Linked DNA regions of Homo sapiens. The protein of the gene in region 1 interacts with the protein of each later gene in a pairwise test. Each region holds a gene or a part of one and is shown on either strand. Other genes may lie near its edges.

Region 1 (17,168 bases):
ATCTCTACATAATTGACGAAGTGACCAAAATGAGTTTGTGAAAACGAGGACTTTTATCTTTTTTTTTTTTAAAGAACAAATTAGATTTAATTTACAAGGCTTAACTTTTCCAAAACATGTGAAAATTGTATTTCACAGAGTTGGTTCTCAAGCATTTGCTGAATGGATACTGAGGATTTAATTATATTGTCACAAATAAAGGAATTATATTTGTAATACAGCACCGAAGACAACAAGAAACAACAAAAGAACCTGTTTATATCATTACTCAATGGTATCGACATTTAGATTCCTTCTTAATCTTTAAAGTTTTATTTTCTATAGTTTAGTATTAAGTATAAATATATCATTCTTTGAAAACTAGTTAGCTGTAATTAGTGTACATGAAAGGTTGTCCAACTGAATAAAAAATCTATTCTTTTTTCTAGATGAACGAGTTTAGAGTTTGTTTTTAAAAGCATATAGCATTATATAAGATAGTCTTTAAGCTCCATCTAGTGGTTATAAAAAGAAGTATTCAAACTTGAAACAGCTTTCACCAACCTGGCATTTAGTATTTAAAAATTGTATTTCCAGGAAACAATCTTAAGTTGATATACTCTCCTTCAGTTGATGATACCATCTCCTGCCAAAACTCACACCTCTTCCCTTTCCCCTCACAGAAGAAAGAAGGTAGAAAATAAGGAAGATGTCCTCTTATGTTCTGTATCTCTTTGTGACTGGTATTGCATTTATTTATGCTTTCCATATAGGCCCTTCCATAGTGCCATGAACATAATTTATGATAAGAAGCTACTATCATAGGAACATTTCATAGTCTAACATTAGTAAGGCACAGATTGTCAATAAGAAATTTGGATATCAGCACACATGGATTTGCTATACAGATGAGTAAGAGTTTTCACCAATTAAGAAGTACCTAACTACAAATTAAAAAAAAAAAGAAAAAGAAAAAGCGGTTCACATTTATAATGAACTTCTCCACAGATCTGCTCCTCAACAGTGAGCATGCAAGTTTTAAGGCTTCATGTTGAGCACTATGCTATTATGTCCAGCAATGAACAAAAGGCTCTTCTGTTATCCTCTGTTGTGCTGCTATTAGCCATCAAGATCAACAATGCCTTCAACATACTTTATTGCTGACTTTAACATTTGGTTTGTCATACTGAGGTGAAACTCTCTATTTAGTTAAAAGTCAGTTAATTAGGATTGGCAATCTAACATTATATTTTATGAGGGGATCTCACGAATGTTCTAGGAATAATTTCATATACTTCTTCAGTTTATGAAGGAGAAAGCATTCCTCAAAAAGCGTTTCTCCTTTGAGTGAGATGGTGAATTACATCATTACTTATTTTTTCCAAAATCTGCTATAAAAATTTGGTAATTTGTTACCAAAAGCTTCAAACTTGAGAGTTTTTAATCTCATTAAATGAATACAATCTAACTTACCACCCATAAACATATTTTATTCTAAAATGTTGAAGTAGAATTCTCCCACGAGGGTACATATAACCTGAGAAACTGGGGTAGTGTGAGGTAATAAAGAATTTAACCTCACCCAAAGCCTCTGTCCTTGGCTTTTGGTACATCATCTCCAAGCCCTTCCACTGTCATGTCTGAAAGCAGTGTCTTTGCCTGGGGGCCTTGGACCAGCCAGATAGTAAAACTGATTTAGACTGGAAGCTCTGAACCACACCAACAGTGTCATGTAGGGTGAGGGCTTTGGGTCAGTCAATCTCTGGATAAGGCTAGAAACTGGGATTGGCCACATGTGCAATTAATCCTGCCTATGTGCTAGTGCACCAGTACAAACTCCGGACACCCGAGGCCTGGGTGAGCTTTCCTGATTGGTAACACTCCATGCATATTGTCACATATCTGTGTTCACACAGTAATGCCCTCCTGCCTCTATGGGGAAAGGACAACTGGAAGGTCCATGTTTGGTACCCTTCTGAACTTTGTCCTATGCATCTTTTCCCTTGGTTAATCTGTGTCTGTATCCTCTCCCTGTAATAAACTGTAATCGCAAGTGAGCTGCTTTCAGTGAGTTTTTTGAGTGTTCCTAGTAAATTATCAAACCTGAAGGGGATTTGGGGAACTCCTTGAATTTGCAATTGGTGTTAGGAGTGAAGACAATCTTGTGTGTACCGTGTTCTCTCTAACTTTATGGGGTTTAGGCATGGTGGGTGGTAGAGAATGAAGTAGGTGTGTAAAATTAACTGTGATCTGATTCTTACCTAAAAAAAAACTTTCCCCATAGCAGGGCTGATATAAAGAAGCCACAACTTAGGTTTTTCCTACTTTGCACACAAAATTCCAACAGTGGAACTTCTGAATGATTTACTTAGGAAATTACATATGGAGAAATGTTTTGAAACTACAAATTCTCACCAAAGATTTCCTAAAATACTCCAATAAGGTGATAGACTGTAATCAGAACTCACATTTACCAAAAAGGAGATGGTATTCTATTTTGAAAGTAATTATATTACTGGGAAAACAATGTTTACCAGTTTTAATTATAATACTGGAAACAACAGTTTTTATAAATGTTTCTGAATGAATTTACAATTTAAATGAATAAATCCTTATGCCTAAAATGAACACTGGCACATTTTTAAGCACTACGAGAAAAATTTTTTTAATTGCTAAGAAATTGAAAGAATTCAGAAACATATAATGAATTACTATATAAACAAAATGCTATAAATTGTTAAACACTGTAAAATCCAGCTTGAAGATGTTTTTCCTGAGGTAGAAATGTTAACTTCATTTTAATTACTTTTACTTATAAGTGGTTAATCTAGCATGTTATATTGCTAGCATATTAATTTTAGTGTTCATTCTTAAATCTTGCAGATGTTCAGGTCAAGTAAAAAATAATTTGCCAAGCTTAATACTTTTGAATTATAATGCACTAAATTATCCTAAACAGTAAAATGCTTAAGAATTGCACAACCAAATCAGAGGAATGAAAAATATACTTTTGCAGTTTGTAGTGTTAAACTATAATGAAAACTATGACTTCAAATCTTCCATACATTTAAATCCTTGATTGCAAAAATTCTGACAGTCAAGGGTCTTTGCTTTATCATATATACAGGCGCAGATTTCATTTTAAGAGGAAATGTAATAGAAATTACACATTGCAATATACCTGATTAGGTGAACAAACAGGAAAATCTTCAACTGGTGGAATTAAACCCTGAGCAATCAATTGTCCATACGAGGGAGGAGCTTCTCTTCTTAACAATTCTGCTTCCACTCTTGACAACTGTGTTTCAAATGATCTTTGAGAGTAGATGGAAAGAAAAATGATTAAAAGGGGGAGCGAAGAAAAAGAACAATTTTCTATTATCAGTAATTAAAACAATCTGAGTCTTGGCATATTTGATCATTTTAAAGCTTAGTCATTTGACAAACATTTACTGAATATATGTATTATCCCTACAGTGGGAATACAAAGCTGACGCAGGCAGTCTGTCTTCATAGGGCTTTATGCTAGTAGAAGCCTAGATCACTGAGTTTTAATAAATGAAAATCCCTGTAAAAGGTAAAGGGAGAAATAATACAAGATTTAAAAACTCCTAAGAATACTGTATTTACTGAATATACGTTGAAGCCACTGCGCCCAGCTGGGATCTTTGACTCTTCATTGTGCTCTTTTGTTGCAATGTGGTAAAAAGTTTTCTGGCCATTTACACTTGGCCAAAGATGCAGTGGTCGGGCGCCGTGGCTCACACCTGTAATCCCAGCAGTTTGGGAGGCCAAGGCGGGTGGATCACGAGGTCAGTAGTCTGGGACCAGCCTGGCCAACAGAGTGAAACCCTGTCTCTACTAAAAATACAAAAAATTAGCCAGGCGTGGTGGCGGGCGCCTGTAATCACAGCTACTTGGGAGGCTGAGGCAGGAGAATCGCTTGAACCTGGGAGACGGAGTGCAGTGAGCTGAGATCGCACCAGTGCACTCCAGCCCGGGTGACAGAGCAAGACTCCCGTCTCCAAACAAACAACAAAAAAAAAAAAAAGGAAAAAAAAGAAAAGATGCAGTAATGGTTATTACGATACTGTGCATCTGTGTGCCACCTATTAGCCATCTGTTACGTAAAAAGTTGTTAAATCTATTATTTGTAATTCTCCTGGGACTGAAGGTCATTGTCTCCACAGGGACATCTCTGCCATTAACTTCTGCCAGGTCCCATTTATCCTGCATCAAACTGAAAACTACTCACTCTGAAGGTCACTCTTTAACAGTTAACCATTTCTTACTGAACTGAGAACTCTGAAGTGCTGTTGTCACTTAACTCTACAACAGGACATTAGTCTTGTGTTCCAATCGTATCTCCTGTTAGCCCTTCATACGCATCCTGGGCTCCAGATAAACTGAATCATGTGCTTACTTTTTGAGCAATGCTGGACATTCCTACTTCTATATATTTTCCTAGGTTATTGCTTTAACAACACCTTTTCCCCTATCTATATTCTTCTACTCATACATTTCAAGTGGCACCCCTCCAATTAAAGCCTTTCTGCCTCTCTCCCTCATTAGATTACGTATTTTTGACTTTATACCATTTTGTTTCATAGCTCTTTATAGTATTATACTTTTGTCATCTTATTCCATGCCCCAATTCCTTCCTCCTAACTGTAAACTGCTTGTGATATTATGCCTTATTCATTTTTCTATTTACCTGTATGCTTTGAACATAGCATATAGAATAACTGGAATTTTTGAATTTGTATTTAGAAAAATACAGGTTAAAACACTAAAACTGAGAGCTGCAGCTTACAATATTCCTATAAAACAGATTAATCTGAAAACAGGAGCTGGTAAATAGATGGGCTTTTTCTCATAACTCTAAATATTTAGTTTGTAATGTGTCTGGCCTTCTGAGTCTCGGGTTTTTCACGCTAATTTTATACATCATCAACAATCTTTATCCATTTTCTAAACTAATATAAAACAAAAATACATTGCTAATCATCAAAGAACTTGTTTCAAACACTTGGGCCTGCTTTTATTGAGGCCCAATAGTTCTGTCTTGATACTGACCTTCTTTCAAACATTCTCAGAGAATAAAGCTTACAAGTACATCCCAATGCTATGACGAGTAACAGGCCACAGATGAGGCTCCCTATGACGGCAGCAGTGATGACTCTTGTAGGCACGATTACTGGGCAATTTTCTTCATCGCTGCCATCACCACAGTCATCTTGAGAATCACACACCCAACTTTCAAACACACAACGATTGTTTTTACAATGGAAATTTCCTGGTTGGCAAAAAAAGCAGTTTTTTTCATCTGAGCCATTTGGGCAATGATTCTGGTAGTTGCAGCGATCAGAACGAGGATAACAGACACCATTTCGGGAACATGGAAATTCTTCCTTCTGGCACATGGTACAATTGGTTTCATCCCTTCCATTTGGGCAATGCCAATACCCATCACAACGCTGCTGCTCAGTATAACACCCCCAGTTACCTCCACAGGGTATTTCCCATGGCAAACAGAACCCATCTACTTGGTAAGTAGCATTAAATCCCCTTGCAGCATTCACTTTATCAGCACAAAAATGTACCCTTATCTGTCCAGAAGAAGAAACAACTGTAAGAGGTGCATGAGAATCAAAAGCTGTCAACACACGCAAAAGCTTGTGTGGATTCTCCTCTAATCCATCATATATTTTGACATAATCACCATAACCAGTACCATCAAGTTTAAAGTCAGTGAAGCGTAAAATGACTTTACGGTGATCACCAGTGTCTATTAACCAGGTGCAATTGCTTCCAGGAGGATAAAAGTCTGGATAATTGGGAGAATTAAAAGTACCATAAAAATATTTTAGCCATTGCCCACATGTTGGCACATCACAGTCTATCTCATCTCCTAGGTCAAGGCAGTCAATGTTCCCATCACATTTTAAAGATTCGGGGAGGCAAGTGTAAACTTTGGTAAAACGGGATAAACACTGGAACTGGTTGTAAGCACAGGGTTGAAAAGCAGCAGCAGTTGGAGGATTTGCTTCTTTGGCACAGATCTCTTCATCGGAACTATCTCCACATTCATCCATGTTATTACATTTCCAGGCTTCTGGTATACACTTTCCATTACCACAACGAAACTGATCACAAGCACAATTTGGTTCCTCAGATTTCCCTGTGAAGATGTGAGTAGAAATAGATGGAAAGAGAAGGAGAAAAATTATAATCTTTAAAAGACATAAAACAGCAAGTGATATTTTTATAATAAATGTTCATAAAGCCCAAGTGCTAGAAGTTTTAAAAAACAGGTTGGTTTTTTAATATTTTAATTTTAAGTTCCAGGGTACATGTGCAGGATGTGCAGGTTTGTTACATGAGTAAACATGTGCCATGGTGGTTTGCTGCACCCATCAATCCATCACCTAGGTATTAAGTCCAGTATGCATTAGGTCTTTTCCCTAATGCTCTCCCTCCCACCCCACCCTCCCTAGAAAGGCCACAATAAATCTGGGGCCTGTGTCCATGTGTTCTCATTGTTCAGGTCCCACTTATAAGTGAGAACATGCAGTGTTTGGTTTTCTGTTCCTGTGTTATTTTGCTGAGGATAATGGCTTCCAGCTTCATCCATCCATCCAGCTTCCAGCAAAGGACATGATCTCGCTCCTTTTTATGGCTGCATAGTATTCCATGGTGTATATGTACCAACATTTTCTTTACCCAGTCTATCATTGATGGGCATTTGGTTTGATTCCATCTCTTTGCTATTGAGAATAGTGCTGCAATCAACGTATGTGTGTATGTATCTTTATAAATGGAATGATTTAACAGGTTGGGTTCTAATGACAAATTAGTACTGGCATGCTTACTCAACAATTCAATTTGTTAAATACTTATTATTATTCCATGAAGATCTTGCATTTTGATCTAAAAGAGAGGACTAATTCTGAATTATTCACATTTGTATGATCTGGTCTTGTTTTTTAGACACAATTTAAGAAAAGAAAAGATGTCGTTTTTTCTGAGACTATAAACTATGAAGGTGAAATTTGTTAGGTCTTTTCTCTGGAGGTATAAAAACAATGACAATTACCACAAAAATACATTCTGAAGTAACTTTCTGGATATGCGTAAGCACTTGAGGGAGAAAAGGCTATTCTTAGAATAAATGTATTTAAGATGTTTAAAAAGAAAATTAACCTTAGTATATGAAGTTAATCATTTTGTTAGAATTATACAAAACACCTTTTGGAGACCCAGCTTTAGGGCATCTAACTTTAGCTTCTAATCCTCAATCTCAGCTGCCTCAAGGGCCTACTCCTAATTAAATGAACACTACTTAGAAGATTAGCTCCGAAGTGACAGAGCAGTTAATACCATAAAATTCAGTTCAATATCTTTCTTATTTAAAAACACACCTGAAAAATATGCCAGTCTGAAACCCTTTCTAGAGATGTTGTCATCCGAATGAAACCTAATCCAGATGTGGTCTTGTGAAGAGATATACGGAGGTGGAATTGTGGAACCACAAGCTCTGTAACTTTCAATATTCTTGTATGTTTCTATTGTCAACCAGTCCAAATTGCACCTTCTGGATCCTTGAATATCAAAATCCTGAAAACTGAAAAAAAAATCAGAAATGTCTATTAAAAAGTCAATTTTGGAAAAAAAAATCGTATTACAAAGTAACTGAGGATATTATTATAAGCCTCCATATACTGACTGATTCTCCTGGGTTTTCTAGGCATACAACCGTATCATTAGCAAATAATAATACTAATTCTATGTTCCTCATATTTGTATTTCTTCCCCAGATTGTAGAAAAATAATTCTTCACAAGTAATGCTAGGTTCCAAAATAATGTTAAAAAACAGGTGACAGTTGGCACCTTTTCTTTTTCTTCTCTGTGTGTACGGTTGGGAAAGACCACTTCTAACTCAGAACATCCTAAACTGTTCTGTGTTCCAACCAGAATCACCTCTCCCCAATCTGATGAATTGAAGTAAACACAGAGAAACTCAGCCTTCTCTTAGATTAATACCTGCTTAATGAAAAGTTTGCAGCTGACATTCTTAGGAGAGTAATTAGCACAAATCTGAGCAAGGTAAAAGACTGAAAAAGGAACACACGAAAAATGTTTTTGGTGAAAAGTCCTTGAGTTTGGGAATACTTTTTTACATAAATCACTTTATAGCCAAATACTATCTTGTAGTTAATAAAATGTGGGCATAAGTATAGGCCAAAAACATCAAATAAATAAATGCACACAGAAAATTAGTCACTGCTTATGAAAAAAGAGAAACCAAAATACAGTTTTACAATATCTGAATATGCCTCACCAAAAAGTAAAGATCTGACTTTATATTCTTGCCTTTGCCTTAAACTAAGTGATAATAAAGTTAATTACCCAAGGATTATTATACCAGAATGTTTCTTCTTCAAATATTCTGAATAACTAACAAAAGCTGATAGACAATTTGATTGTTTCCAGGTTTGCACTATTATGAACTATGCTTTAAAAACTCCTGGCCGGGCATGGTGGCTCACGCCTGTAATCCCAGCACTTTGGGACGCTGAGGTGGGCGGATCACGAAGTCAGGAGTTTGAGACCAGCCTGGCCATGATGAAACCCCGTCTCTACTAAGAATACAAAAATTAGCCGGGCATGATGGTATGTGCCTGTAATCCCAGCTACTCGGGAGGCTGAGGCAGGAGAATCTCTTGAACCTGGGAGACAGAGTTTGCAGTAAGCCGAGACTGTGCCACTGCACTCCAACCTGGGCAACAGAGTGAGACTCCGTCTCAAACAAAACAAAACCAAACAAAACCAAACAAAACAAAACCCTTATACATGTACGTATCTCTCTTACAAGAACAAGAATTTCTCTAGGACAAACTATTCTAGAACTAGTATTGCTAGGTCAGAAGAATAATTCCTCTTTAAATCTGACAGACACTGGAAAAACATGTTTATACGAATTTACAGTTCTACCAAGTATGTACCAAAGTACCATATACCCCACACGTTTAGCAAAATGACATATTCTATTTTTAAAAATGTTTTGCCAATTAGGTAGACAAAAGAGATTTATCACTTCTATTTAGCATGTCTTTATTTACTGAGATTGAAATCCTTTTCCAATTTTTGGGTTATTTCTATTTCTTTTACTCCAAATTGCCTTGTTTTCCAAATTGCCTCCTTTATTCATTAATATTTCTTAAGAACTCTACATATTATAAACATGAGCTTATTCGGGGGCATGTATGTTATGTGAGACATGTCATATCCACCTACATCCACATTCTTTCTCTCCAATAGTCAGTGTGGTCAGTCTTTTTCATTTTAGTCACTGACGGGTGTGATCTCTTATTGTGGTTTTATGTACACTTCCCTGAAGACAAATTTGCTGAACATCTTTTCATGTGATTATTGGCCATTTTTATATCTTCTGTGAAGTATCTGTTCATGTCTTTTGCCCATTAAAAAAAAAAAGTTATAAAAATCCCTTTTATATTCTTGGCCGGGCATGGTGGCTCACACCTGTAATCCTAGAACTTTGGGAGGCTGAGGTGGGCAGATCACTTGAGGTCAGGAGTTCGAGACCAGCCTGGCCAACCAAAATGGTGAAACCCCGTCTCTACTGAAAATACAAAAATTAGCTGGGTGTGGTGGTGCATGCTTGTAGTCCCAGCTACTCGGGAGGCTGAGGCAGAAGAACTGCTTGAACTTGGGAGGTGGAGGTTGTAGTGAGCTAAGATCGCACCACTGCACCCCAGCCTGGGCGACAGAGCAAGACTCCACCTCAAAAAAAAAAAAAAAATGGATTCAAGTCCTTTGTTAGACATGTGTATTGCTAATATTTTCTTCCAGCCTGTGGTTTGTCTTTTCATTTTCTTAATGGAACCTTTTAATAAGCAGAAGTTTTAAATTTTAGTCTTCATTAAGTCTAATTTGTTATTTTTGCTTTGTGTTTAGTGCATTTGTTGTCCTAAGATATCTTGGTGTTTCCAAAGATCTCAACGATGTTCAACTACTTTTTAAGTATTTCAGAGTTTTAGTTTTTACATTTATAGCTGAGATTTATATAAATTTTCGTGTTTTCAAGTAGAAAATGAGATTCTTCTTTCTTACATTTATCTAGAACATAGAAGATACTAATTTTTGTTCTATCACACAGTTAAATTAGTCTGATGACTATGAACTTGAGGAGGTTTGGTTTTACACTTGTTTAAAGTGAGTTTGTTTCTGCTTTGCCCTTAGTCTTAGGGGGAATTCTTAGTTTAAGGACACTGTCTTTACTTGTAAAGTATGACACACAGAGTTTCATTAAAAATCTCAAGGCATTTATTTATGAAGCCCTATACTCGGTCTCCCCTGTGATGGACAGGATTCAAACTCCACATGCTGCCTCTGCTGTGGGGTGCAGCAGCTGAAATCTTCAGCCTTCCTGCTGTTACTTTCCAGCAGGTTCCTTGGAGTCTTCTTTAAGCACACACAATTCATGGGTCAGCTAAGGATTCGAGAATAATTTAAATGCAGTTACTTTCCAGCTTGTGGTTCTCTCCTTTCCAGGAGTTACCTTATTAATTTCCAGTTACTGTCCCATCCTCAACTGCATCCTGACACCTCAAGCTGACAAGACCACGGTGATCTGCTTGAGTTCCAGTCACTCCACGTTGCACAGACTGGCAAGAATCTTCAGAGAACTGGTAGGAAACAAGCCTATCTCACGAAGTGTGGTTCCTTCTTTCAGGGGTGGAATACTCTCCAGTTTTTGCCAGTTTTTTATTACTCTCCAGAGCCTTCAAATATCTTTTCCAAACTTAATAGCTCTTGTTTATGGGAGGTCTAGTCCCATTCAAACTAGGGAATCCCTAGTTTGGTTTTAAAATATCTTATCCAAACTTAATAGCTCTTGTTTATGGGAGGTCTAGTCCCATTCAAACTAGGGAATCCCTTAATAAACTTTTAGTCCACTAAACATTTAAGATTCATGAAGGCAAAGGCTGGGAGAGGTGGCTCACGCCGTAATCCCAGAACTTTGGGAGGCTGAGGTGGGTGGATCACCTGAGGTCAGAAGTTCGAGACCAACCTGGCCAACAAGGTGAAACCCTATCTCTACTAAAAATACAAAAATTAGTTGGGCGTGGTTTTTAATTTTAGTCTTGATGAAGTCTAATTTTTTATTTTTGCTTTATGTTTAGTGCATTTAGTGTCCTCTCTAAGCTATCTTGGTGTTTCCAAAGATCCCAAAGATGTTCAACTATTTTTTAAGCATTTCAGAGTTTTAGTTTTTACACACCTGTAATCCCAGCTACTCGGGAGGCTGAGGCGGGAGAACTGCTTGAACCCGGGAGGCAAAGGTTGCAGTGAGCCAAGATGGCGCCACTGCACTCCAGCCTGGGTGACAAAGCGAGACTGTGTCTCTCAAAAAAAAAAAAAAAAAAAAAAAAAAAAAAGATTCATGAAGGCAGAAACCTTGTTTAGAATAAGAAACAATAAATATCTGTTCATGTATACCCTATTTTAGTTTGCTAATTCATTTAGGATTTTTAAATAAGTAAAATTACTTTTTGGTTTTTTAAATGCTTCATAGTACTTTGTGTAATAAAAGCACTGTTGACATATTTGTGCTCTGTGCCTATTTAGAATATATTGAGTCAGGGAGAGAGTTTCAATTTCTTGATGTTTTTTGGTTTAATCAGTGTTTCTTAAACTTTTGACCATTTAAATTTTCTTAGAAATTGATCTTATGTTGATAGTAAAATTTATTACTACAAAGCTCTGTACACAGTACTTTCATACAATTTAAAGACATTTTTTCCTATCTGTGATCTTTAAGTTTGCTTTAGACTGCTTAAAACAAACATATAATTAGCAAATAAAGGTTTTCTCTTCCTTCCTATTTTCTTTATATCACTGATTTCTATCTGTTGCACTGTTGCATTCACTAAGAATTCTACTATAACCAGTAAAAGCACACATTTTTGTCTTGGTCCTTGGTGCTATAATTAACTTTGACATTAAATTTGCTTTTGAAAATTTTTAAACAGACACCCTTTACCAGGTTAAGGAAATTCCTTTTCTATTCATTTAGTAAAACTTGCCTATAAAACTAGTTCTAGAGTCTTAATTTGAATGCTGATTCAATTTCTTCAATGGCTACTGATTTCATCCGTTTTCTAATTCTTCTTGAATCAATTTTAGTAATATAAATTTTCTAAAAAATAATCCAATTCATCTACTTGTATAAAAGTATTAACATAAAACTGCTTATAATATTCTCTTATGACATTAAAAATTTTGTTTATAACTACAGACACTTTTGCTCTTTTTATCTTCTCTTTTTCTTCAGTTTTGCTTTGAGTTTTATCTATTTTCCTGAGTTTTTCAGAAAGTCAGCTTTTTGTTTTATTGAATTTTATTGCGTATTTTCCTGGTCTTTACTGCTACTTTAAAATTTACCCTCTAATTCTTTTCCTTAACTCTTGAGTTAAATGCTGAGCTTATTTATTTTCTAATTTTTAAATCAATGCATTAAAGTTGTAAACTTTTCTAAGTATTCTTTCAATGTATTCTAACAGTTTTAATATGTATTACTTTCACTATGGTTATTTAAAAAATATTTGGTCCCATTGTGATTTCCTCTTTAATTCAGGAGTTATTTAGGAATATATTTCTAAACATACAGGTTTATTTTTTTCTTTTATTTTAATTGCATTGTGGTAAGAAAACACAATCTGAATGATGTACAGTCTTTGAAATGTATTAAGAGTTCCTTTGTGATGTGAAACATAATCAATTTTTATAAATGTTCCACATGTCTTTGAAAAGAATGTGTATTCTTTGTTGAAATAAGTATTAAAGGTGTGTTAAAAATCTCCCACTGCAACTGTGGATTGGTCAAATTTGCCGGGCAATTCTCCACATTTTGCTTTGCATGTATTTTAGGCTATGTAATTAAGTAAATGAAATTTACTGCTGGTTTATTTTCCTGGTAGAATACCCCAATTGTTACTAGTATTTTGTGCCTTAAGCTCAATTACAATGGATGTTAATCTTCCTACACTAGCTTTCTCTTGATGAGTAGCTCCAAAACTAACCTTTTCTATCTCGTTTTGTTTTTGTTTATTTTTAAGACTAAGTCTCATTCTTCCACCCAAGCTGGAGTGCAGTGGTGCATTCATGGCTCACTGCAGCCTCAACCTCCTGGGCTCCGGTAATCCTCCCACCTCAGCCTCCTGAGTAGCTGGGACCACAGGCAACGTGCCATCATGCCCAGCTAGTTTTTTGTATTTTTTGTAAAGACAGGGTTTCACCACCTTGCCCAGGCTGGTGTCGAATTCCTGAGCCTACCTTGGCCTTCCAAAATGCTAGGATTACAGGCACGAGCCACAGCATCTGGCCCATCTCCTTGTTTTTAGACATTCTGTATTAGTTTTGTTTTAGATGTGTTACAACCTTTCTACTTGGGAGAGAGTTCTCATTTTCCTTCTTTCCTTTTTTTTTTTTTTTTTTTTTTTGAGACAGGGTTTCACTCTGTTGCCTAGGCTGGAGCACAGTGGCATGATCTTGGCTCTGTAACCTCCACCTCCTGGGTTCAAGCAGTTATCATGCCTCAGCCTCCTGAGTAGCTAGGATTATAGGCGCGTGCCACCATGCCCAGCTAATTTTTGTATTTTTAGTAGAGATGAGGTTTCGCTATGTTGGCCAGGCTGGTCTCAAACTCCTGACCTCAAGTGATCTGCCTGCCTCAGCCTCCCAAAGTGCTGGGATTACAGGCGTGAGCCACCACATCTAGCTTCCTGTCTTTTTTGAATATATTTTTAAAGTTCCTTTTCCTCTGTTAACTGCTCAATATTACTCCTATTTTTAATCAGTGGCTACCTTTTGATATTTTAACTGAAATGCTGAAACACACTTTTTTTCTAACAAAGTCCAAGTAAGAATATTCGGTGTTTCTCCTGTCCCCTCAAAAATCACAAATAGGGTAGAAACAATTTAAAGCTTTATTTTCACTAACCTTTTACTAAAATTTAGCATTTCCTACACTTATAAACAACAAACCATGACAGTATTTATAGCACTGGCCACTCCACCACTATTCAAAATTAGAGATATTTTTATGTTACATTTCAGTTTTTACAGATATCTAAAAATACTATTTACACGTAAAATTTTTTCTTTGAAATTAACCACTTGATTTTGCTAATGTGTTCATAAATAAGCATATATTACATTACAAATATTAAAAAATATCTGATAGCTGTACTTTAACATAATTGGTTCCCTTTGTAATGCTATGTATTTTTTTTAATGAATTTAAACACATTATTCTGGGAAAGAATACATAGGTTTTACCAGAATACTAGGTGGCCGTGGCATAAAGAAAGTTAAGAAATAATTCCTGACAGAATACATCTTAAAATGCCTGGAGTAAATTTGAGTTCCAACTTAATTTTGTTTGGCTGTTTTTCTCAGCATTCAATTTTTTCACACATTCTGGAATTTTGGTTTACAGGTTTATTTTATGGAAGTTTTTTGGTTTTCTCTCTTTTTTTTAATCCTCTCTTCTTCTATGTTCCCCTACTTGGGTCTACATTCCAGAACAAGTCTTAAATGATGGTTCAGAGTATTACAGATCCTTTCATGGAGTCAGCAGGTGACATAGTTATTCATGTTTGTTAGGTTATGCCCTCTCAGCTCTCTAAGCTCTCAGCCCCATATAAATTCAGGCTGTGGTTGGTGGAAGATTTTTCAGCCTCCTGTCTGGAGCAAAATTGCCCGTCCCTAGTCCTTGGCTTCAAGCAGGGTGCTGGTATTCAATCCTCTCTTCCCCATGGATAAGGTGGCCTTTGTTGATTATAGTGGGTTCCAAGGGAGAGGAATGAAGTAAAAATGCCTTTATTTCACCATCTTAAGCAAGTTTTATACAGACAGTTCTCAGTATTGTTTTTACTCCGTAACTTTAGTTTCCCTCTTCTATCCAGATTTTAAAAAATCATGTTTCTAATTCCATTTTACTAAGAATTTAAAATTTTTATTTTAAATTCAGGAATGAATGCTGATTTTCTTTTTTACCAAGATGCTTCAAAGCATCTGTGTACACTAGATAATCATATACTTTTTCTTTTGACTTGTTTACATGGTAAGTTAATTTAATATTTCCTAATACTGACTCATTTGTATGTCTAAAAGAGCTACATTTAATTATGCATATGATTCTTTTGAATCATTTAAGATTATGCAATGATAATCATATGTAAAACTTGTCTTTGTGTATATGCAGGTGTGTCATCTTTTTAAAGTTATGGTATTACCATGATAATGACTTCAGTAAAGAATCTGAACAATTACTAAAATCACCTTCTGATCTGTATACATCGAAATTCATTGCTCCCTTCTAAAATTCAGGAAATTTTCCTTTAGCTGTAGGGCTCACTTCAATTTTATTCTGCATTTCAGTATTGTGCTTGGTTTTTAGTGTATCTTAACCTCATGAAATCTCAAGGATGCAATACATTATCAAAACCAGATGGCAGTATTTCATGTAATCTCCTCTGTGCTGGTAAGATTTTCAAGTTTTACAAAACTGAGCTATAAGTTGTAAGTTAAATTTTTAGGTTAAAAGGTGAAGGTCTCTATAAATTCTAGTTTTATGCTAAAAAACTCCCAATATGTGGTAAAAATGTTATTTTGTAAACATACTTAGTCACACTACAAGTAACAGAAAATAGGTATATTATTTACATTTAAACACTGACCCTGTTACAGAAAGATAACCTTAATGGTGCATTCTACCACTCAATCAGGCAAGAGAAAAACACTGCATGGAGGAGGAGAACAACAGCTTTTGTATGTGCCAAGCTCTGGGGTTCCAGAAGAGGTAATGTAGGGTAGAGGAAAATAAAAGGAAAACAAACTATGGCCCTTGTTTGTGGTTTCCACCAAAAAAAGGAGATAGATGACAGTTATGCTTCTCAAGAGAGATTGGTTTCCTCATCAGTTAATAAATACAAAAAAGGAAGATGAAAAAAGATGAGAAAGTAGGCTAAATGTATAAGTCTTATTTTAAAAACATAAAATGAAGGAATTTGAGTTTATGATCTCCAAAGTCTCTTCTAAATCTAAAATTCTATGCCTCCTACCCATACAATGTTACACATGAAAACATGTTGAAGGTGCCTTTGTGCTACACTGTCTCTGTGATGGAAATGACATTCTTATTTGTGTTTTGTTCCAACTGCAGTTCTTCATTCGGGCTATTTTTTTTTCCCCTGTAGGTAAATATTTTTTTCCTAATGGCCTTGATAGAATTTTCCTAAGCAAGCAGTATCTAGTTCTACTAAATATATTCTTTACAATCTTATTCCCGTACTGTTTTTCTCTGCAAGTAATTTGCTAAATGTTTTAAAATTTAATCTTAACCTTCCTTATTTATATGTCACATTCATTCTTAGAATCTTAAACTTACAGCTATTTCCCCTAGGAATGCCTTTCATTTGTATTCTTAACAAATGTTCTTTTGTTTCGAAGTTATAAACAAAGATTTTTCTAGATATAGTATTTCTCCATTATCAGTTTGTTTCAAGTTTTATACATACATACACATATACAGACAGGCATGACAAATTGTGTTTTAACTCATTTAGGTAGAAGGCTCTACTAATGAGACAAAGGTTAAGAGCTAGATATCCAAGTGAATTAATGAGTTTTGTTTATTTGTTTGTTCCACTGCCAAAGGTTAGTCTTGACCCTAATAGGCTATTTTGCAAATGTCTATATTTTGTTAAAAAGTAGCTTAGAAGAATATAGATGATTCAATGCAAATACATTACCACCCTTAGAAAATACTCAAAACACATACCAGATGGGCTGTTACTCTTACTCTTAAGATGACACCAATAGCTAATAGCTGTTCTTTATTACATCTCCTGAAAAGCCTTCTTTTTATATTACTGCATGTTAAGTAATAATAAATGAAAATGGAATTTATGTTTTGTAATAAATTATATAGTAATACAGAAAGGTAGAATTACCTTATAGTAATGATTTCGCCTGGGTTTGCCCTTATGAACCAGCTACAGTTGATTTTTGCAGGATATTCAGAAGGCCAGCCTGGGCTTGTGATTATGCCACTTGGTGCTCGTATTTGCTCTGGAGTCTCTCCACAAGCTGGAAGATA
Region 2 (15,054 bases), on another chromosome or scaffold:
CTGCTTCTCCCCAGCAGCATGCTGGCTCCAACCCAGGCCAAAGGGTTACAACCACCTATAACCAGTCCCCAGCCAGCTTCCTCAGCTCCATATTACCATCACAGCCTGATTACAATAGCAGTAAAATCCCTTCCGCTATGGATTCCAAGTAAGTGAATTTTTATATACCGCATGTACAGTGAACTTATATCTGAGGAGTTTGCGAGGGGGTAGGAGTTTTGGGGGTATGCTGCAGTTCATTCTTTACTATCTAAAAAGGCAATGTGACCTTACAGTCTCATTCCATAGTTCTACTAGAACATGCTGAACCAGGGTACTGGCAATAAGAGGTCATCTGACTATTCTCCAGTGTCCAAGCTGCGCTGAATCCAATTACCTATTACCCCATAAAATTATTTACCCATTATTTTCCATCTTTGAAAAAAATAATTTCTCACATACCAAAGAACAATGAACTTTTCCTTTAGTTCTAAGCTAAGCTCCTCATGCTGTAAATTTAATTCCTCTGGTTCTGGGCTTGGCTAAGATGAACACCTGTCTGCTCTTCTTCAGATAGGATTTCCTCTCACATAAGCAGAGGCTATTAAGTTTCTTCTCAGTCTTTTCTTCCTATCCCTTTTCCCCTCTAATCCTGAATATCCACTTGGCTGAAAAATTTTTAAATTAACAAATAAAAAAACCTGGAACTCAGACCCTGGAATGTATACATTTTCCTTACTGTGATCAGAAGAAGGAAGGCCTGAATAGATGAAGGCTTATGACCTTACGGTTTCGTTTGGTAATTAAAACCACACCTTGTTCAAATTAGTTGGGTTGATCTAAATACAGGGACTAATACTGGGGCCTTATGTAAACATGTGCTATTTCCACTACCCTAAGACTGTCCTAGGAGAACCTAGTATGAAAAAGGAGATGGTGGTTATGCTTTTTTTAAAACATGAACTGAATACCTTGTGCTTATGCAAACTATTGGCTATCAGCTTTCCTGTTCCTTGGCTGGCTGGAACATCAGAGAATTAAATCAGAGGCATCTCAAAAATTGTCTGATGGAATATGTTTTGTTGCAGGCTTACTAATACATTCACTCAACTCTGCTAATTTCTCGCAGTCTTCTCTAGAGGCTAATTTTTCTACAAACTCCTATTATTGGTGACAACTTTGGAAATCTAGTTGAACTGCCTATAGCAATTCAACTTGCAAAAAAAAACCTTTTCAATATTTTAAAAAATAAAAATCAGGAAAACCAAAAACATTTGTTAGAATCCTATAGATATTAAGTTGAACCATTTGAAATGGCTGATAGTCAACTGTTTTTGACCTACAAAAATGGCATTCTCACAGGTTTAACCTAATATTTTAAAAGGATGTTTTTAATAATTGAGAGCCCTTTCTTTCTCTTCCCTCCCAAATTCCCTTTATAATATATAGATCTTTCTTGGTTATATTTACCCAGATGATCATTTTCCATCTAGCTTTCTATTATTTCCATATTTCCTATATTAGCATTTTAAAATCTAGAAGAATTTTTTGTTTTTCTTAGTAAAGTCTTTCAATCATATTTCAAATTACTGCCCAGAAAAGAAAGTGATCAAAGACTTAAGAAAAGAGAAAGGCAAAAACATAATAAGAAATAAAGCCTAGGAGGTCCCCAAACCAGAGATCAAAGATCCACTTTAGCTGTTCCATTTTCAGCAACCACAGATAACTCTTTAATCTTCCCATAGCTACTTGATACCCATTTCGTGTCCAGCTGTGCAGAGTGGAAAGCCCTGGCCCTTTGAACATTTGTGCACAACTCCCTCGTTATTATGGGCTCCAGTTCGCCCTGACTTCCAAAATAATCCCTTGGATTCTGACCTAGAGAAATTTGAAAGCTTTATTTAGATTTTCATCAATAGGAAGCTCTTAGGCAAACATTTTACCCAGTTGATCAAACCACAGACTGAAAACTGAGGGGAACTCAATTGTTCCTTCCAAAAAGCTTGCTATGTGAAATTCAGCAAGCACTTTACCTACCCAGTGCTTCAATTTTCTGGTCTGTAGCAATATTAAAGAGTTAGGTAATTAATGATAGAGAAAGGACCTATAAAGCAGTGTGCAAACGTACTATTAGTTTGTAAATGGGAGCATTTATCAAGTCGTAACACTTAATCCACCTAAACTGGGAATAATGAGAGTATTCAGTGAACAAAGTGACTGAGGTTACATATACATCAGTGATTCTCAGGATTGGTTTTGATAATCCTTCAGGACTTCTCAGATATATTCAGAATTTCCCAGATATGACAAGTCTAAAAACAATTATTTAATGCTAATTCACATTAACAAATGTGTGACTTATAAAGATGATAAGCTAGCATTTTTAAAAAAAAAAAAAACAGTAGGCTAGGCCAGGTGTGGCTCACACCTGTAATCCCAGCACTTTGGGAGGCCAAGGTGGATGGATCACCCAAGGTCAGGAGTTTGAGACCAGCCTGGCCAACATGGTGAAACCCTGTCTCTACTAAAAAAAAAATACAAAAAAATTAGCAGGGTGTTGTGGCAGGCACCTATAATCCCAGCTACCTGGGAGGCTGAGGCATGAGAATCGCTTAAACCCGGGAGACATAGAGAGAGGCAGAGGTTGCAGTGAGCCAAGTCCATGCCATTGCACTCCAGCCTGGACAACAAGAATGAAACTCCGTCTCAAAAAAAAAAAAGTGGTCTATTATAATTCTATACGATTGAAAAAATATGAGATCTATAAGGCCAAAGAGATTTTGACACTTTGATCTAGGAATTCAATCTTTAAAAAAAAAATCGCTATTTTAAAAAACATTTTGTTTGGCTATTAACTGAACAAATCAGACTTTAAAAATTTATATAGACAACCATAAAGATCTTAAGACCTGAAATGTCAGGAGAGGAAATGTGTATCATTAGCTTTCAATAGAGTGTCCTGAATACTATGAAAATCACTCATTCACTCAACTGATAGTATCTCCTATACCCATGCTCTGTGTTCGTGGATATAAATGATATAATGATAACAAATAAGACATATTTTTTCTCCAGAATGTTTACAATCTAATGATTACTAACCAAGTTCCCAAAGCCAGTAAAAATTAAAACTCTGGCCCTACTTGGAGGAAATACATTTATACTTAGCTCACAAGTCCTTTTAATGATCCTTGAGAATATTTGGAAAGGATCATTTCAGAGAAGAGACCAAGATTGTCTCATCTGGATAGCCAGAGAACATTTATTATAATAATGGTAAAATACTCATTGAGGGCAGTGGCTAGTTTCCTCACATTAAATAGATTAATAAAGATTAGTCCCTGCAGGCCGGGTGCGGTGGCTCAAGCCTGTAATCCCAGAACTTTGGGAGGCCCAGGCAGGCAGATTACCAGAGGTCAGCAGTTTGAGACCAGCCTGGCCAACATGGCAAAACCCCGTCTCTACTAAAAATTCAAAAATTAGCTGAGCATGGTGGCGGGTGCCTGTAATCCCAGCTACTTGGGAGGCTGAGACAGGAGAATCACCTGAACCCGGGAGGCAGAGGTTGCAGTGAGCCGAGATCGCGCCACTGCACTCCAGCCTGGGCAACAGAGCGGGACTCCATCTCAAAAAAATAAATAAAAATTAAAAATAAAGATTAGCCCCTGCAGGGCTCTGAATGGATAAACTAGGTAAAAACTGAATAAAGCACTGTGATACATTTAAGCTACCTAACAGATCTAAAAATACAGGACTCTCTAAATACCACCCTATCCTCTATCAGAATCAACAAGGGAAATACGGGAGGGGCAAGGACATCATAGAAAAAATTTAGGATCAAAATTTGAAATAAAGACTTTATTTGCTTTTTTCCAGTTTACATTTCTTTCTCCTTCCTCAAATCATCCCATTTTTTCTCTAAAAATCACTTCAGTAGTATTGAAGAAACTGTCATTACTTTAGAAGTTATTTGCTGTTATATAGTGCCATACTTGGATTTTCTAGAATATGAAATTAATAGGAATTGGAAATTACAGGAAAGTCAATGACTGTGTAGACTCCATTCAAAGCAAAAGATTATTCACTAAAAGCCAGTGGTGTGCTGGTAAATGTCTAACAATCACTGGACAAAAGAGCCATTATTTGTGATATTTACCGATTTCCCTGGTGTAAATATTTCCACCACAACCAATTTCAAACTATAACATGAAATCATAGGAAGCTGGGAAAAGATGCTAAAAATCAGCCCATATGAACCAGCTCCAGAATACCACCACTTAATATCTACCCATAAATCAAACAAGAAATTCGGTCATCGTAGCTATAACAAAGAACAAAATTACGTCCTTTGCAGCAACACGGATGCAGCTTGAGGCCACTATCCTAAGCAAACTAACACAGAAACAGAAAATAAAATAGAGCATGTTCTCATTTATAAGTGGGAGCTAAACATTGGGTACATATGAACACAAAGATGAAAACAATAAACACTGGAGATCCCGAAAGCAGGGAAAGAGGTGGAAAAGGGTTCAAAAACTAACTATCAGGTACTATGTTCACCTCTTGGGTGACAGAATCATTAGAAGGCCAAACCCCAGCATCATACAATATACCCATGTAACAAACATGCACATGTACTCCCAGAATCTAAAAAAAAATTTTATTAAAGAAATTACTCATAAGATTGGAAGAGCTCTCAAGCTGCCACTAACTAGACTTACTCTCACATTCCTTAGGGAATATCTTCAAGGAAGGACATCCTCCTTATGTCTAATCTAAATTCTTCCTCCTGACACTTAATTTCCATTTGCCAAAAGGAAAAAAAAAAGATAGTAACCATTCTTATAAAATATTTCTTGACTGTTATTAGGGCAATTTGTTTTTAATAATACTAGTAGTACTAAGTGGTAAACTCAACATATCTAAAGGTAATTTGCAAAATGAGGCCAAGACCTTCTTTTTAAAAATCTTTTCTTTTTCCTTTTTAAAGCTATCAACAGTCCTCAGCTGGCCAACCTATAAATGCAAAGCCATCCCAAACTGCAAATGCTAAGCCCATACCAAGAACTCCTGATCATGAAATACAAGGATCAAAAGAAGCTTTGATTCAAGATTTGGAAAGAAAGCTGAAATGCAAGGACACCCTTCTTCATAATGGAAATCAAGTGGGCAAGATGTCTATTTTGTACAAAAGGCCAATTAAACTATAAAATCTAATTTTAATAAGGAAGTTCTAGCTCACAGATCTAGGTCCATATATCAACAAGGAATAAGATTATCTAAAAAGAAGGAATATTTGGGCCCTATTCCATTTCTCTCTGCATGAAATCACCTCTTGGTTTACAGTAGTAAAAGAATGAAGCAAATGAAAAATGTATCTGAATGGTTTAATGAAATTTTTCTGTTATTAAATATTACCCTCTCATAAAATATGTCTGATGCCCAAATAGCTATTAGGAATTACTGTCAAGTCAACTTAGTGTACTTTGATGTATAACACTGACAGGTAATTATTGCTATAATTCTTATCATGTAGTCCTTATTGTGTATATTATATTAGTAACTTATCTTTAAACAGTACTATATGCCTTTAATACAAATACATTTAGCCTATCAGTTGGACTGCTCTCAATCAGAAGTTAGTACAATCAAATATTCAGTGCTCATTTAATAAAAGTTACTTCTGGCTGGGTGCAGTGGCTCACGTCTGTAATCCCAGCACTTTGGGAGGCCAAGGCAGGTGGATCACCAAGGTTAGGAGTTCGAGAACAGCCAGACCAATATGGTGAAACTCCATCTCTACTAAAAATAAAAAATTAGCCAGGTGTGGTGGCATGCACCTGTAGTTCCAGCTACTTAGGAGGCTGAGAAAGGAGAATTGCTTGAACCCAGGAGGCGTAGGTCGCCATGAGCCAAGATCGTGCCACTGCACTCCAGCCTGGGCGACAGAGTGAGACTCTGTCTCAAAAATTAATTAATTAAAATTAAATAAAAATTACTTCTGAATGTGAGCACATGAAGTATTATATTCAAAAACAAAGCTGACTGGAACATGCAGAACAACGGAGGAAAGGGTTGAATTTCCCTTTACTTAGGAGATCCTTATTTAAGAGTGATTATGCTTGCCTGTCATAGGAGCAAAAAGAAAGCCTAAGTGAACCTTTACTGCAAGTGAGGGAAATGGTACTAGAATAGAAGGAAAATGCTTTGAATGGAAGAAAAGACTTTAAAAAAAAAAAAATAGAATCAGCCGAGCGCAGTGGCTCACGCCTATAATCCCAGCACTTGGGGAGGCCGAGGCGGGTGGATCACAAGGTCAGGAGATCAAGACCATCCTGGCTGACACAGTGAAACCCCGTCTCTACTAAAAATACAAAAAATTAGCTGGGCATTGTGGCAGGCGCCTGTAGTCCCAGCTACTCAGGAGGCTGAGGCAGGAGAATGGCGTGAACCCAGGAGGCGGAGGTTGCAGTGAGCCGAGATTGTGCCACTGCACTCCAGCCTGGGCGACGGAGTAAGACTCCGTCTCAAAAAAAAAAAAAAAAAAAAAAAATAGAATCTATCATTCAATAGATAGAACTATGCTTCTTTGAAGTTCTGACCTATAGTAGTGGTTTTAAGGTAAACCTGTACAAACATCTTTTATTAAATCTAATTACTGTCTCAATAAATTCTCTAAAGCGTCTAACATATGAAGAGAAGATGGCTCGCAGATTGCTAGGACCACAGAATGCAGCTGCTGTGTTTCAAGCTCAGGATGACAGTGGTGCACAAGACTCGCAGGTAAGTTAAAATGCTCTAAGTGGAGTATTTTTATTCTGTGCGATTTTTAAATGTCTGCTTTTCTAAATGCTTATAAATAGCATCTGAAATAAAAGTCGGTCAGTTCCATCCACCACTGGATACATAAAGAGGCCATGATAAACATATATACATAATTTTACCACATTTTACCCCATTTTCTGGTAGTTCTAATACCTGGATACACAACGTCACAAAATCAAAACACAAGAAGTCTAATGGTATTATTTTTTATCAGGACATTTATGGGTCAGTTAGACCTAGGACTCTCTATGGTGTCTACACGGACAGGGAATATATGGGTTGTGAACCTCCAATAGGACAGAAATTAAGATTATAAATGAAAGTAATTATAACCTTTCTCATAAGCTGTTTAACATTTCAATGTTTTAAAATATACTTGTGGTACTAATGAAACATCCAATTCCTTTTGTTATATTCCTGTTTTCAAAAAATGCTTTCTGAAAACCAAAAAAAACCCCTCATGAGTAATTGTTCTAAGATTAACAAATGTATCCTTTCCAAGAAGGGTTTAACTTTATGGTGGCACATCCCACAGGTTTGCACCTGATCGATTTTTTTTTTTTTTTTTTTGAGACAGTCTTGCTCTGTCACCCAGGCAGGCTGGAGTGCAGTGGCACAATCTCAGCACACTGCAAACTCCACCTCCCAGGTTCAAGTGATTCTCCTGCCTCAGCCTCTCAAGTAGCTGGGATTACAGGCGCACACCATCAGGCCCAGCTAATTTTTGTATTTTTAGTAGAGATGGGGTTTCACCATGCTGGCCAGGCTGGAACGCCTCGGCCTCCAAAAGTGCTAGGATTATAGGCATGAGCCACCACGCCTGGCCTCAACTTGATTTTAACAAGTAAACTTAACCCCAAAGAAAAATGTACAGTTGGTGGCTGGGCACAGTGGCTCACGCCTGTAATCCCAGCACTTTGGGAGGCCGAGGTGGGTGGATCACGAGGTCAAGAGATCGAGGGGATGCTGGCCAAAATGGTGAAACCCAGTCTCTACTAAAAATACAAAAATTAGCTGGGCGTGGTGGCCTGCGCCTGTAGTCCCAGCTACTCAGGAGGCTGAGGCAGAAGAATCGCTTGAACCCGTGAGATGGAGGTTGCAGTGAGCCAAAATCATGCCACTGCACTCCAGCCTGGGTGAGAGAGAGACTCCATCTCAAACACAAAAAAGAAAAAAGAAAAATGTTCAGTTGGACAGGTAGACTGAATGTTAGCACTCTTTCTTCCTTCATAGTTACCTTCCATTCCCTCCAAAAAGTCCACAAGAAACTGGGAGCCAAAGAGATTAAACCAGGAACACAAATATTCCTAGCTTCCAAATGTAGAAAACTGAAATTCAGTTTTTTTTTTCCAACATCTACTTCCCAAGTTCAAGTGATTCTCGTGCCTCAGACTCCCAAATAGATGGGACTATAGGTGCGCACACCGTGCTGGCTAGTTTTTGTATTTTTTAGCAGAGACGGTGATTTCACCATGTTACCCAGGCTGGTCTCAAACTCCTGAGCTCAAGTGATCTGCCTACCTCAGCCTCCCAAAGTGCTGGGATTACAGGCATGAGCCACCACACCTGGCCTTTGAAATTAAGTTTTTTGGTTCTGTTTGATGCAACTACACCTACTAAAAAGGATGGAAGAGGGTCTACCAGAGCAAGAACTAGAAACTGAAAAGAGAACTTAAATTTATTTTTGGCTACTAAACAGTTCATGAATTCGTTCATTCAACTAATTTACATGGAGAACCTACTTGTATGTTGGGCTCTGCACTTGGTATGGAAGATTATAGCAAAAATGAGACACAAACTCATCACTATTAGGGGAATTACTCAAAGCAATATTATACTGATGATGGTTCATCTTTTTTTTTTTTTTTTTTTTTTTTTTGAGACGGAGTCTTGCTCTGTCACCCAGGCTGGAGTACAATGGCGCGATCTCGGCTCACTGCAAGCTCCGCCTCCCGGGTCCATGCCGTTCTCCTGCCTCAGCCTCCCGAGTAGCTGGGACTACAGGCACCTGCCACCACACCCGGCTTTTTTTTTTTTTTTTTTTTTGTATTTTTAGTAGAGACAGGATTTCACCTTGTTACCCAGGATGGTCTCGATCTCCTGACCTCATGATCCACCTGCCTCGGCCTCCCAAAGTGCTAGGATTACAGGCGTGAGCCACTGTGCCCAGCCTGGATATTTTTAATTGGATTACTTTTACTTTACCAAAAAATTAGTTGATTTGTTTGATCACTGAATTGACCAGTTGTCTTGATATTTTGCTTAGAGAACCTTAAGGCTAGCCAAAAATTGTTACAGAGTTGTAAGACTTTTGCCTTAAAAATGACAAAATACATTAGCTAAATAGATTCATCCCAAAGCAAATTATTTGTACTCAGATCTTGTGTGCTCCTACAGAGCTTTGGGTAGGGACTGTGTTTTCCACTTTGTATCTCCCACTGTGCTAAGCACAGTGAAACGCAAAATACACACTACTTAATCAATTAGTTCTCTTATAATTTTCATAAATCCCTGATTTTATTCTCAAATAGAAATAATTTTCTGCTGTTCGGATATAAATCCTAAAAGATGTCTGCTTAAATACAACTTTATTAAACAGGAATTAATGCTATTTTACAAAGCTTTTTCAAAGCCTTACACATACCTTTCGTGGAGTCCATCAGGATTTTGTGCCACGAGCTAAAAAGAGAAGAATTTTCCAGTCTAATATGTGTTTACTGCTGTTGGTGCCACTTTTGAGCAGCAGGCATAATACCCTGCAGCTACTGCCAATACAAGTGACTTCATGTCTATTCCTGTTTTACTAAAGGACAATCTGTACTCTGTGCTCCCATTTCAAATGCACCAGGGAGACACATCACCCTTTGTCATAAAATAGTCATCTGAAAAATGAACCACCATCAATTCCAAGTCTAGCTAATTTTCATAAATAATACTTGTTGAATAGTCCCATTAATTCTGGGCTTCTTGCTAGAGTGGTAGTATGTTAGTGCACTGTACTTTAAGGGCTTAAAAGCTGAATATATAGAACTTACCAGGGCTGTTCAAATACAGCCAAAATAGGAATGTTCCTTTCAACTGTAACTACTTAATTCTGCTTCATTCAAGCTAACAATTGCATGTAAACATTCTTACTTTGTTTTAATTTCAAGCAACACAACTCAGAACATGCGCGACTGCAAGTTCCTACATCACAAGTAAGGTAAAAAATTTTAATTTTAAAGAAATGTATGTTTTCCTATCTAAAATATTTTCAGCTTAAAAATGTAATATTTATAAAGCCCTCGAGCCTACTCTATACCTTTTGAAAAATACAATGTGTATTTTCTAATGTCTGAGAAGATGACCAAAATTTTGACGTTCATCATCAAAACTATCACAGGGGAATTTTTTAATGTTTTGGTCAAATAAGCCAGGATCATGCTTCTATATTAAACAATTTTCTCATGACAATGGAGACCTAATTCTTATTATACAATCTTTGGTGGTAAGAATAATCTGCTGGGTACTGGGCATTTTAATAGACCATTTCTTCATCAATTCATGGCACTGTAAAAGAGAAACTAAGATGTACAATTTGTACCAGATGTTTCTAAATTGCTACCATTTCTAATAGTCATCAAATATGCCACAGGTAAATACAGCCCTAAGGCCTCTCTTCATTGTTATTACACTATCAGATCAAACAGTAGATTCTGTGGTTTCAAATTTGATGGCTAGGCTGGACGCAGTGGCTCACACCTGTAATCCCAGTACTTTGGAAGGCCGAGGTGGGTAGATCACCTGAGGTCAGGAGTTCAAGACCAGGCTGACCAACATAGTGAAACCCCATCTCTACTAAAAATACAAAATTAGCCAGGCGTAGTGGCACATGCCTGTAATCCCAGCTACTCGGGAGGCTGAGGTAAGAGAATCACTTGAACCCAAGAAGCGGAGGTTGGTATAACTGAAATACCACATCTCTGAATATAACTATATACATGTTCACACCACCACTATAGAAAAACGTCAAAAACTTAATTTGGATATTTTTATTTATTTATTTATCTTTGAGACAGACTCTCACTCTGTCATCCAGGCTGGAGTGCAGCGACGCGATCTCGGCTCACTGCAACCTCCGCCTCCCGGGTTCAAGCGATTCTCCTGCCTTAGCCTCCTGAGTGAGCTGAGATTGGGCCACTGTACTCCAGCCTGGGCAACAAGAGTGAAACTCCATTGAAAAAAAAAAATTGATGGCTAAACTATATTTGTGCAAAATGAAAAGCAATGATAATATTTACGCATAGTTGTTACCAAAATATTCTTGTAGAAGTAGATCAACCTCAAGGGGAGATGTGAATGATCAGGATGCAATCCAGGAGAAATTTTACCCACCACGTTTCATTCAAGTGCCAGAGAACATGTCGATTGATGAAGGAAGATTCTGCAGAATGGACTTCAAAGTAAGAGAAGGGTTCAAAAGTACTGGGGGAAAATTAACAATGGGATACTAAGTTTTGAAAAATGTTCTTTTCCTACTTCATAGCTTGCAAAGCAGTACGTACAATGGACAAGAACACAAATTCTGAAGTCAAACTGATGTGGGTTTGAATTCTGGCTCTGCCATCCTCCAGCTAAGCAACCTTAGACAAGTCATTTAACCTCTCTGTGCTTTTGTCTCCTCATCTGTAAAATGGGATAACAAATACCCCAAAAAATTATGAGGATTAATTGAGTGGATAGGTATACCTAATAAATACTTTTATAAGTGAAGCTATCAGAACAATATAATTTTTAAAGTACAATGCCCTTTTTTTTTTTTTTGAGACAGGGTCTTGCTCTGTCACCCAGGCTGGAGTGCAATGGCACAATCGCAGCTCACTGCAACCTGTCTCCCAGGCTCAAGCCATCATCCCAACTCAGCCTCCCTAGTAGCTGAAACTACAGACGCGTGCCACCATGCCCAGCTAGTCTAGAACTCCTGGGTTCAAGGCGATCCACTCACCTTGGCTTCCCAAAGTGCTGGGATTACAGGCGTGAGCCACTGTGCCCAGCCTTAAAGTATAATGTCTCTCCAATTCTCCTCTATCAAGAAATTCAAGCCACCCTGCTTTCTCTTGGCCTAAAAGAGTCCCTCAGACTAGAAAAGCTCTTTAGAAGAGGTTATATTTTTATTATCCTTATTTTGGAGAACTTTTCCTTATAAAATTTTTTTTCCAGATTCCTTATGAACTCAAGTTAGTGTTAAAGCTTTGGATTCCACTGTTAACAGTTTATGTAAAAACACTTAACAAATTGCCATTTATATGCCAAACTATAGCTCAAGAACACTCTGTTTTAGAAAAATTACGCATTAGATCAGGAAGCCTCATATATATGTGCCTCTGGGACTTCATTTGCAGTCACATTTAGCCAGAAAAGCAATGACTTCTATATTCCTTATGGAAACCAATGTAACATAAATTAATGTTCTAAATATAGAAATTAAGAGTTCATAAAGAGACTGAGGTTGCATGTAAAAGAGTTATGGTTTGAGACAGTCTAAAAATACTATGTTAATTTCAAGGATCTTATTTCCAATGTTTTGTTTAAAAAATTATAAATACTTTTGAGCTCTTGCTTTGCATTTCAATCGCAAACCCACTCAGATACGGGAACTGTTTAAATTCATATATGGACAAATAGGTTTCAGTGATGCAATACTTTAAAATTCTGCCATCTCCTTGTGTTTTTCTTTCTAGGTGAGTGGACTGCCAGCTCCTGATGTGTCATGGTATCTAAATGGAAGAACAGTTCAATCAGATGATTTGCACAAAATGATAGTGTCTGAGAAGGGTCTTCATTCACTCATCTTTGAAGTAGTCAGAGCTTCAGATGCAGGGGCTTATGCATGTGTTGCCAAGAATAGAGCAGGAGAAGCCACCTTCACTGTGCAGCTGGATGTCCTTGGTAAGCCTCCAAAGAGACCCTTGAGAATTCCTTAAAATCCAGAAGTATTGAAAAAAAGAAAGTATTTTAAAAGAAAAGCCCAGCAGACTTCATATTTAAGGTTAATGTCTATACAACCTATTGGAATGTCCATTTTTATCTACAAACCACAGGAAAAAATATATATATATACACACACATACATACATATATAGATATGTGAAGGAAAGTCAGTGAAACTAGAATGACAGATCTATCACCAAAGCTTTTCTGGAAAGAAAATAAATCATACAATTTTAGACAAACCAAATAATGAAGCATAAGCATTTCTAGACGTAACTATAGAGTCTCAAAATGAAAATCTTAGTCTAATCATTTCTCTGGTCTTTGTTTCTCCAAAATGAGGATAATAAAAATAACCAATCTGACTCACAGTATTACAGAATTATCATAATCTGTCAAACGTTAAATACATAGTTTAAAAGTGAAGAGTAGGCTGGGTATAGTGACTCAGGCCTGTAATCCCAACACTTTAAGAGGCGCCAAGGTGGAAGGATCACTTGAGCCAAGGAGTTTGAGACCAGCCAGGGTAACAAATAGCAAGATCTTCTTTGTCTCTACAAAAAATAAAAAAATTAGCTGGGCATAGTGGTGCACACCTATAGTCCCAGCTACTAGAGAGGCTAAGGCAGGAGGATAACTTGAGCCTGGAGTTTGAGGTTTCAGTGAGCTATGATTGCACCACTGTACTCCGGCCTGGGTGACACAGTCAGACCTTGTTTAAAAAAATTTCTTAAAAAATCAAGAGTAAATATCAACTTTTAGCCTTAGACTATGTCCTTTTTACTAGGAAACTAATGTCTAATTATAACCAAAACAGGCCTACTTGCTTTAGAAAACAGGTATGGCTACATTTATGTCTCAAATCTGTCTTAAGTAGAGCAGTTCTTATAAAACTGGTGTCTGGTTTTTAAATTTTACACTTTAAGTGCTTTAAATATACAAGTTGAGTATCCCTAATCCAAAAATCTGAAATCTTTAAGATGCTCCAAAATCGACATGACACACAAAGGAAGTGTTCATTAGAGCATTCTGGATTTTCAGGTTAAGAATGCTCAACAAGTATAACGCTAATATTCTAAAATAAAAAAAAAATCAGAAATCCAAAACACTTCTGGTCCCAAGCATTTCAGATAATGGATACTCAACCCATACCATATTTTTAATACTTTAAGCCATTGTATATTGCATAAGAGATATTTTGCTATAATTCACTATTTATTATACAGAAGTTTGATCAGGTTAAAGGATAAACTATTTTCTTGAGTTTATATTCTACCCAGATCAATACAAAATCTTTAAGATTATTCAATAATATACCAAAGGGCCTCAATCTCAGGGGAAAAACTAGTGGGCTGGAAATTTTCAAAAACACATACAATTTAAGTGATTAAAGTTTAGACAAATCCTATTTGTACCAATGGCTTCAGAAATACTACAATAGTAGAGCTGAAAGAGATCTTGGCTGCCATCCGTTTAATCTCATTTCTCCTTCAGAAAAACCAGGGTTATGGTACTGAACTATCGTTTCCTGTCTCCCCTCAGGTAGCTGAAAATAAGGTCATAATAATTACTGATATTCCCACATTCCTTCAGAGTTTACAAAGTATCTCTTTGTTTATTATCTCATTTGTTCCTTACAATTATTTTGTGTGGTAGACACAACAGTCACTACTACCGGGATTTTTTTTTTATAACAATAGATAAAACTGAGACTCAGAGAAACTAAACAAAATTTTACCAATTTGGCATGGCTCATGGAGCCAATAGGTAATTTGAACCCAAGCTGTCTGATACTCTTTCCATCACTCATGCTGCCTCCCTGTAGATGAGATGATAAAGAATATAACTTAAATTTGGGCCAGGCACGGTGGCTCATGACTGTAATCCCAACACTTTAGGAGGCTGAGGTGGGCAGATCACTTGAGGCCAGGAGTTAGAGATCAGCCTGGCTAACATGGCAAAACTCTGTGTCCACTAAAAAAAATACAAAAATTAGTTGGGTGTGGTGCACACCTGTAATCCCAGCTACTCAGGAGGCTGTGGCAGGAGACTTCCTTGAACCTGGGAGGCGGAGGTTGCAGTGAACCAAGATCACGCCACTGCGCTCCAGCCTGGGCAAAAGAGCGAGACTCTGTCTCAAAAAAAAAAAAAAAAAAAAAAAAAAAAAAGAATATGACTTTAGTTTGAATGAAATATAATTATCTGATTATCAATTCAATGCATCATTACATTAGAGTTTAGAATTCTGAATGGTATAACAAAATAGTACTGCATGTCTTT

What was found.
Region 2: the proteins of LRP12 (region 1) and MYOT interact in a two-hybrid assay, tested with the Homo sapiens proteins (one study listed by IntAct).

Annotation. Positions count from the first base shown.
Region 1 is NC_000008.11:104,491,917-104,509,084, forward strand, and holds part of LRP12 (low-density lipoprotein receptor-related protein 12 isoform a precursor), read right to left. Parts: intron 17,159-17,168; coding exon 17,023-17,158; intron 7,604-17,022; coding exon 7,401-7,603; intron 6,161-7,400; coding exon 5,056-6,160; intron 3,294-5,055; coding exon 3,161-3,293; intron 1-3,160. UniProt on the Homo sapiens protein: Probable receptor, which may be involved in the internalization of lipophilic molecules and/or signal transduction. May act as a tumor suppressor.
Region 2 is NC_000005.10:137,870,860-137,885,913, forward strand, and holds part of MYOT (myotilin), read left to right. Parts: coding exon 1-148; intron 149-4,969; coding exon 4,970-5,144; intron 5,145-6,660; coding exon 6,661-6,762; intron 6,763-9,448; exon of another isoform or gene 9,449-9,956; coding exon 9,957-10,006; exon of another isoform or gene 10,007-11,113; coding exon 11,114-11,246; exon of another isoform or gene 11,247-12,524; coding exon 12,525-12,732; exon of another isoform or gene 12,733-12,762; intron 12,763-15,054. UniProt on the Homo sapiens protein: Component of a complex of multiple actin cross-linking proteins. Involved in the control of myofibril assembly and stability at the Z lines in muscle cells.